Homo sapiens: one gene and its partner. The protein of the gene in region 1 purifies or fractionates together with the protein of each later gene. This does not show direct contact. Each region holds a gene or a part of one and is shown in the gene's direction. Other genes may lie near its edges.

The links. Proteins that work in one complex are often made in the same cells at the same time.
Region 2: the proteins of SYNGAP1 (region 1) and ATP6V1D purify together in Homo sapiens (co-immunoprecipitation; 2 studies listed by BioGRID and IntAct, with this or other methods). This does not show direct contact.

The regions. Positions count from the first base shown.
Region 1 is NC_000006.12:33,444,065-33,447,564, forward strand, and holds part of SYNGAP1 (ras/Rap GTPase-activating protein SynGAP), read left to right. Parts: intron 1-379; coding exon 380-553; intron 554-2,510; coding exon 2,511-2,722; exon of another isoform or gene 2,723-2,734; intron 2,735-3,500. UniProt on the Homo sapiens protein: Major constituent of the PSD essential for postsynaptic signaling. Inhibitory regulator of the Ras-cAMP pathway.
Region 2 is NC_000014.9:67,353,305-67,356,804, reverse strand, and holds part of ATP6V1D (V-type proton ATPase subunit D), read left to right. Parts: intron 1-3,500. UniProt on the Homo sapiens protein: Subunit of the V1 complex of vacuolar(H+)-ATPase (V-ATPase), a multisubunit enzyme composed of a peripheral complex (V1) that hydrolyzes ATP and a membrane integral complex (V0) that translocates protons.

The DNA.
Region 1 (3,500 bases):
TTGCCTCCTTTTGGCCATTAAACAAATGTGTATAGAGGGCCTGCTATGTGCCATGTGCTATGCCAGGCACTAAGGATACGGCACTGAACCCTCTTAGCACTCTCATTCCAGAGGGGATTAATCCATAAGTAGAATGGGGGTGACTGGAATAGGGCCAGCTGGGGGCTTGGAGGCATGAAGATCAGATCCTGAATCAGAACAACAGGAGAAATTCTCTGGCATTCAACTCACATCTCTGGCATTCAGAGGTGATAAAGGCTACAGCAGGGCAATAGGACTGGGACTGTCGTCTCCTTTGGCTGTGCTGTTGCCCTCTAAATGTACCCTGCTTTTTCCCACCTTTTCTTTCTCTGTTCGCCCTCACTGTGCCTTGTCCCAGCATTCTCAGACACCATCCACATTGAACCCCACAATGCCAGCCTCTGAGCGGACAGTGGCCTGGGTCTCCAACATGCCTCACCTGTCGGCTGACATCGAGAGTGCCCACATCGAGCGGGAAGAGTACAAGCTCAAGGAGTACTCAAAATCGATGGATGAGAGCCGGCTGGATAGGGTACGATGGGCTCTACCAGCTCCAAGCCCCAGTGTTTCCTTTTACCCACAGGGGAGATCTCTAGTCACTTCCAAGGGAAACCTCCAGGGTCAGTTATGGTGGTAAGAAAAGGCAAAGACCTGATCACCTCTTGAGAAGCCTTCCGTCCATCTGGGGAGACCAGATACACACAGTTGTTAAAAGTCACTTTCAACTCTATTTTGTAGGTTATATATATCATAGACTATCTGGGGATCATCTATTTTAGGCTTACCTCCATGTTCTTCCCCAGGAGGAACATAAGCCCTGGCTCCTGTGACTGCTTAGGAAAGGAAATGTTACTTTACTGGCAGTAGGAGCTAATAAATTGGATGGGGATGGAGGGGGTTGCAGCTATATTACAAGTGATGTCTGGCCTACCCAGTCACTGTCCCATGGGCATAAGTGACAGTCAGTGGGCAGGGAATGCATGTGGTAAAGTAGTATGTATCAGTCATGTGTGAAAAGACCATCCAGACCCTCACTTGGTGGAGGCTGAGGGCAAAGGGCACCAAGAGCTCTGGGGCTAACACAGATAACTTAGCAGAAAGTTACTTGAGGAAGCTGTTGTTCCTAGGGCCTGAGGAAGAGGGCGGCTGCAGGATTAGGTCATATATAAAGAACATATGATCCTAACACGGGGAAGTGGTCTTTGAGCATAGGAAATGTTGGGACTGACTCAGATGGGCTTGACCAGCAAATTTAATGAGAATTAAACCCTAATATTAGCCCCAAGGCAGCCACCGTAGGAAGTTAATTCACATCTCTCCTCTGCATGTAGAAGGGTTGGTGATATATGTATGTATCCTCTTCAGAGAATGAGGAAATAGTCTTTTGAATCATTTTTTTTTCTGTGCTTCAGATGAGGAAACCTTGTTGAGAAAGGCTGTAGACTAGCACTATCCAATATAACTTTCTGCAGTGATGAAATGTTCTGTAATCTGTAGTGTTCACATGTGTCTAGTTGTGATTCAGGAACTGAATTTTTAGATCTATTTAATTTTAATTTTGTAATTTTTTTGAGACAGGGTCTTGCTCTGTCACCCAGGCTGGAGTGCAGTGGTGCAAACATGGCTCGAGGCAACCTCCGCCTCCTGGGCTCAAGACATCCTCCCACCTCAGCCCCCTGAGTAGCTAGGACTACAGGGTCGTGCTACCATGCCTGGCTAGTTTTTTTTCTTTTCTTTTTTTTTTTTTTTTTTTTTTGTAGAGACGGGGTTTTGCCATGTTGCCCAGGCTGGTCTAGAACTTGTGAGCTCAAGTGATCTACCTGCCTCAGCCTTCCAAAGTGCTGGGATTACAGGTGTTGAGCCACTGTGCCTGGCCTAAATTTTAAATAGCTACATGTGGGCTGGTGGCTACCATATTAGACAGCACAGCTGTAGACTCTAGAGCCAATAGGGCAGATAAAATGACTCTTCTGAGCTCTTCCAGCTCTGGAATTCCTAGATTCTCAGCCTAGAATTCACTTGTAGACCTCCTATCCTTGGCACCTTGACAGAGCCAAGGAGAGGGTCACATGGAGGACAGCACCTGCCTTTCCCCCGTCAATTGCCTTTTCTTCCTATGTCTCCAGCATGTGTTCTGGGGCCTGGCTTAGGGCTGAAGAGTCACCCTATTTTTAATTTCTGAGCACAGTTACTCAAGGTGTGTTTGTGAGTGTAGGTTTCTGTGTGGGTCTTCATGAGGGGCCATACATAGACCTCAGGGTGTGGGAGTCTGTGACCTTGCTCCATTTTGAGGGAACCTCAGCACCATGGCAGGGTCTTCTCAAAAGCAGGTGTGTGGATATGATCCACAGGCAGGGAAGGGGTTGGGGAAGGCAGCTGGATGTCCCTCAACATGCAGTGGCTGTGCTTGGCAGACAGGGATGGAGGCTGGGTGGTGGGCTTGGGGTGGGGCGCCCCTCATAGTGCGGGGTCGTGTGCCCGGCGGGCAGGTGAAGGAGTACGAGGAGGAGATTCACTCACTGAAAGAGCGGCTGCACATGTCCAACCGGAAGCTGGAAGAGTATGAGCGGAGGCTGCTGTCCCAGGAAGAACAAACCAGCAAAATCCTGATGCAGTATCAGGCCCGACTGGAGCAGAGTGAGAAGAGGCTAAGGCAGCAGCAGGCAGAGAAGGATTCCCAGATCAAGAGCATCATTGGCAGGTGAGGGGCGGCCTGGGGAGGGGGTTGTGAGGGAGAGCCTGAGGCTGGAGAGAGCAAGTGGGTGAGCTACTCCGCTGACTCCCATCCCCAAACTCAGGAGCCCACCAGGAGAGCCCACCACTCTCCTCCCCAGGAAGCCACCCACTCACTCATCACCAGATGGAGAGAAACCCCAACCTGCTTAGTGCATTAAATATCTCTTTACCAAACCCTGACCTCTCTTCTGATAGAGTAGCTTCGGAAGCCCTTGGAAAATGTACCTGTTCCTGTCCAACCATCACTGCATTTGCATTTACCCTAGGCCAGAGCTCCCCACTAGTTATTCTCAACTTAACCTGTGATGTTCACTCCAAACCTAAGCAGGGCTCCCTAGCCAGAGTAGGCCCTGCCCTTCCTGGGTGGACCCTCCCTCTCTAGCCTTGGAAAGGTGTTCTGTTAGAAAGGGTCTTTTAGCCTGTGTATGTTTTCAGCTGCTCCAGCAAGTCCTGGGCTCCAAAGAGGGTATCCTCAGCAAAGAGGTCAATTATCTTCAGAGTGGTGGGGTCGGGGTGGGGGGGACCCTGGGCGCACTCCAACCAGAGCCACCTCCATTTTGATCCATTCTAAATGTATTTTATGTAAGATTTAATTAGAAGAAAAGGGCTTCTTGAAATATTTTTTGAAAACCACTGCTCTAATTGATATCCTTTATGATAAATCACCTCGAGGATCTTCACAGTGAGGTGACATGGGGGATGCAGAAGCCAGGTCCTCAGCCATGGAAGGTCTGGGGAAGGGG
Region 2 (3,500 bases), on another chromosome or scaffold:
CGACCTTCACTTGATAAGACCTCTTGTGAGACCAGTCAGTGCAGAGTCAGCCAGTGATAATTGTTCTCTTTAAGGGGAGGCACATGTTTGGGGTACAGTGAACGTAGGTTGGAGCCTTAGTTTGAGCATTGGGAAAGTCAGTGGAATCAAAAGTCTGGTTCAAGTCCCTGCCCTGCCTTTTCTTCACTGAGTAACTTTGAGAAAGTTGTTTTACTTTTCTAAGCCTCATTTTTCTAATCTTTAAGTTAATGTCTAAAGTCCCTTTCAGCTATAGAATTGTCTTAGTGATCTTAGCCCTATGGTAAAAGATTCCAGTATAATTTAAGAATTTGGCCAAATGGTGTTTGTTTGTTTTTGTTTTTTTTTTTTTGTTTTTGTTTTTTTGAGGCAGGTTTTCCCTCTGTTGCCCAGGCTGGAGTGCAGTGACCCGATCTTGGCTCACTGCAACCTCTGCCTGCCAGGTTCAAGTGATTTTTGTGCCTCAGACTCCTGAGTAGCTGGGACCACAGGGATGCAGCACCATACCCAGCTAATTTTTGTATTTTTTGGTAGAGATGGGGTTTCACTATGTTGGCCAGGGTGGTCTCGAACTCCTGACCTCAAGTTATCCACCTGCCTCGGCCTCCCAAAGTGTTGGTATTACAGGTGTGAGCCACTGCACCTGGCCAAAAAAGTTTATTAGTACATGCGATTTTAAAACACCAGTCATATGAAATTATATCCCCTTAAATCACTGTGTCTAGGTTATACTGTGTCTAGGTTATACAACCTTATTGTTGAATTTTATTACCCAAACACTTGTTTTTTTGAGACCGAGTCTTGCTCTGTTGTCCAGGCTGCAGTGCAGTGGCATGATCACAGCTCACTGCCTCAACCTCCTGGGCTCAATCAGTCCTCTCACCTTAGCCTTCTTTGTATATGGGATTACCGGTGTGCCCTACCATGCCCAGGTAATTTTGATATTTTTTTTTTTTTGTAGAGACAGGGTTTCACCTTGTTTCCCAGGCTGGTCTTGAACTCAAGCAATCTACCCACCTTAGCCTCCCAAAGTGCTGATTATAGACATAAGCCACTGTACCACTTACCTTATTTAGAGCATTCTTCCTAAGGTCCTCCAGGTACTTTTCATTAGCTCTTTTTCCTGCCTGAAATACTCTTTCCCCGGAACTTATAACTGGCTCCTTTGGCTGTTCTAGTCTCTTAAGAGAGGCTGTTCCTGATCACCCAATCTAAAGTGAACACCATGTTTGCTTCTGTCATAATTCCTTATTTTAATTTTATTGTAGCATGTACTACTGCATGGTATGACATTTTATTTCTAGTCTTTTTTTTTTTTTTTTTTTTTTTTTTTTTTTGAGACAGGGTCTTACTTCTACATCCTCGAACTGGGCTCCACTTTTTTCATTATTAAATTGTATCTGGCATATGGCAGCAAGAACAGAAATGTCAGTTTCTGCTTGACTTTGGTATTGGGGCTTCTGATGGGGAAAAAAATTGAAACAAGGAAGTGAGGAGACTTCAGTGTAAATTTAGCTTGTCATTTCTCAGGAATCTTACGTATGTCATTTGTTACCTAGTCTTTTACAAATTAATAAAATGATTGCTGTTAGGATCTTGATTGATGATATCAAAACATGTTAATACCACACTTTTAATAGAAAATGTGGTAAATTATTGTGGTATAAAAAATGCAGGCCAGGTGCGGTGGCTCATGCCTGTAATCCTAGCACTTTGTGAGGCCGAGGTGGGCGGATCACCTGAGGTCAGGAGTTCGAGACCAGCCTGACCAACATGGAGAAACCTGTCTCTACTAAAAATAAAAAATTAGCCAGGCATGGTGACGCATGCCTGTAATCCCAGCTACTCGGGATGCTGAGGCAGGAGAATCGCTTGAACCTGGGAGGCAGAGGTTGCAGTGAGCCGAGATCGCGCCATTGCACTCTAGCCTGGGCAACAAGAGTGAAACTTCACCTCAAAAAATAAAATAAAATGCAAAAGGTACAAAAGAATATAGTAGTAAAAAGTAAATCCATATTTTTCATCCAGTCCCATTTATCAAAGGTAACTCTTGCCAGTTTTTGTGAATCCTTTCTAGAACTATTCTCTGCATCTATATAAGCACATTTTTTCCTTACTTTGCATAAATAAGACTGTTATATAGACAGCACATGCCTATATACCTTCGTCTTTTTTAATGACTGTATATCATTCCATCATAGGTGAACTCTGATGTATTTAGCATTTAGCTTGTTTCTCCCTTTTGCTATTACCATAAGGCTGGAGTACCCATCTTTTAAACCTTGCACGTGTTTTTGTACACATGTGGGAATAAATTTGTAGGATAAATTCCGCAAAGTGGAATTGTTGGTCTTGAAAATAATTGCATTTAAAATTTTGATATATATTAGTGGATAGATTTTTAAATCCTTAATATACCTCCAGTGGAAACTAAAACAAAGATATTATTTTAACTTACAAATCAAATAAGTATTTAAACTATGTTGGCATCATAAAATAAGGCTCCTGATAACATTTATGATGATTTAATAAATATTCCAGATATTGATTATAAAATTGTTTCTGTTGTAAATTAATAAACTTTTCATTTATGGAACACTGATGGTAGAAATCTACATTATTGGAAAACCAGTTGTCTTAGTCCATTTTCTGCTGCTATAACAATACTTGAGACTGGGTAATTTATAAAGAAAAAAATTTATTTGGTTCATGGTTCTGGAGGCTGAGAAGGGTGAGGGCCTTCTTGCTGTGTTATCCCATGGCAGAAGGCGAGGGTGAGAGAGAAAGCAAGAAAGGGTCGAACATGCCTTTTTTTTTTTTTCTAAAGGGACAGGGTCAGGTGCAGTGGTTCATGCCCATAATCCCAGCACTTTGGGAAGCTGAGGCTGGAGGATTTCATGAGACCAGGAGTTAGAGGCTGCAGCAAGCTATGATCATACCACTGCAATCCAGCCTGGGTGACAGAGCAAGACCCCATCTCAAAAAATAAGGAGTCGGGCCGGGCATGGTGGCTCATCCCTGTAATCCCAGTACTTTGGGAGGCTGAAGCAGGCAGATCACTTAAAGTCAAGAGTTCGAGATGAGCCTGGTCAGTATGGTGAAACCCTGTCTCTACTAAAAATACAAAAAAATATAGCTGGGCTTGGTGGCATACGCCTGTAGTTCTAGCTACTTGGGAGGCTGGGGTGGGAGAATTGCTTGAACCTGGGAGGTGGAGGTTGCAATGAGTCGAGATCGCGCCATTGCACTCCAGCCTGGGCCTCACAGTGAGACTCCATCTCAAAAACAACAACAACAACAACAACAAAAGGAGTCTTGCTACTATCTTACCCATGCTGGACTTGAACTCCCAGGCTCAAGGGATCCTCCCACTTACACCTGTAGCTGGGATTACAGGTGTACCCAGATGAACTCACATTTAAAACCAACCCACTCCTGCAATAAGGAACCCAGTCTTACCATAATGACGTTAATCCATTCAT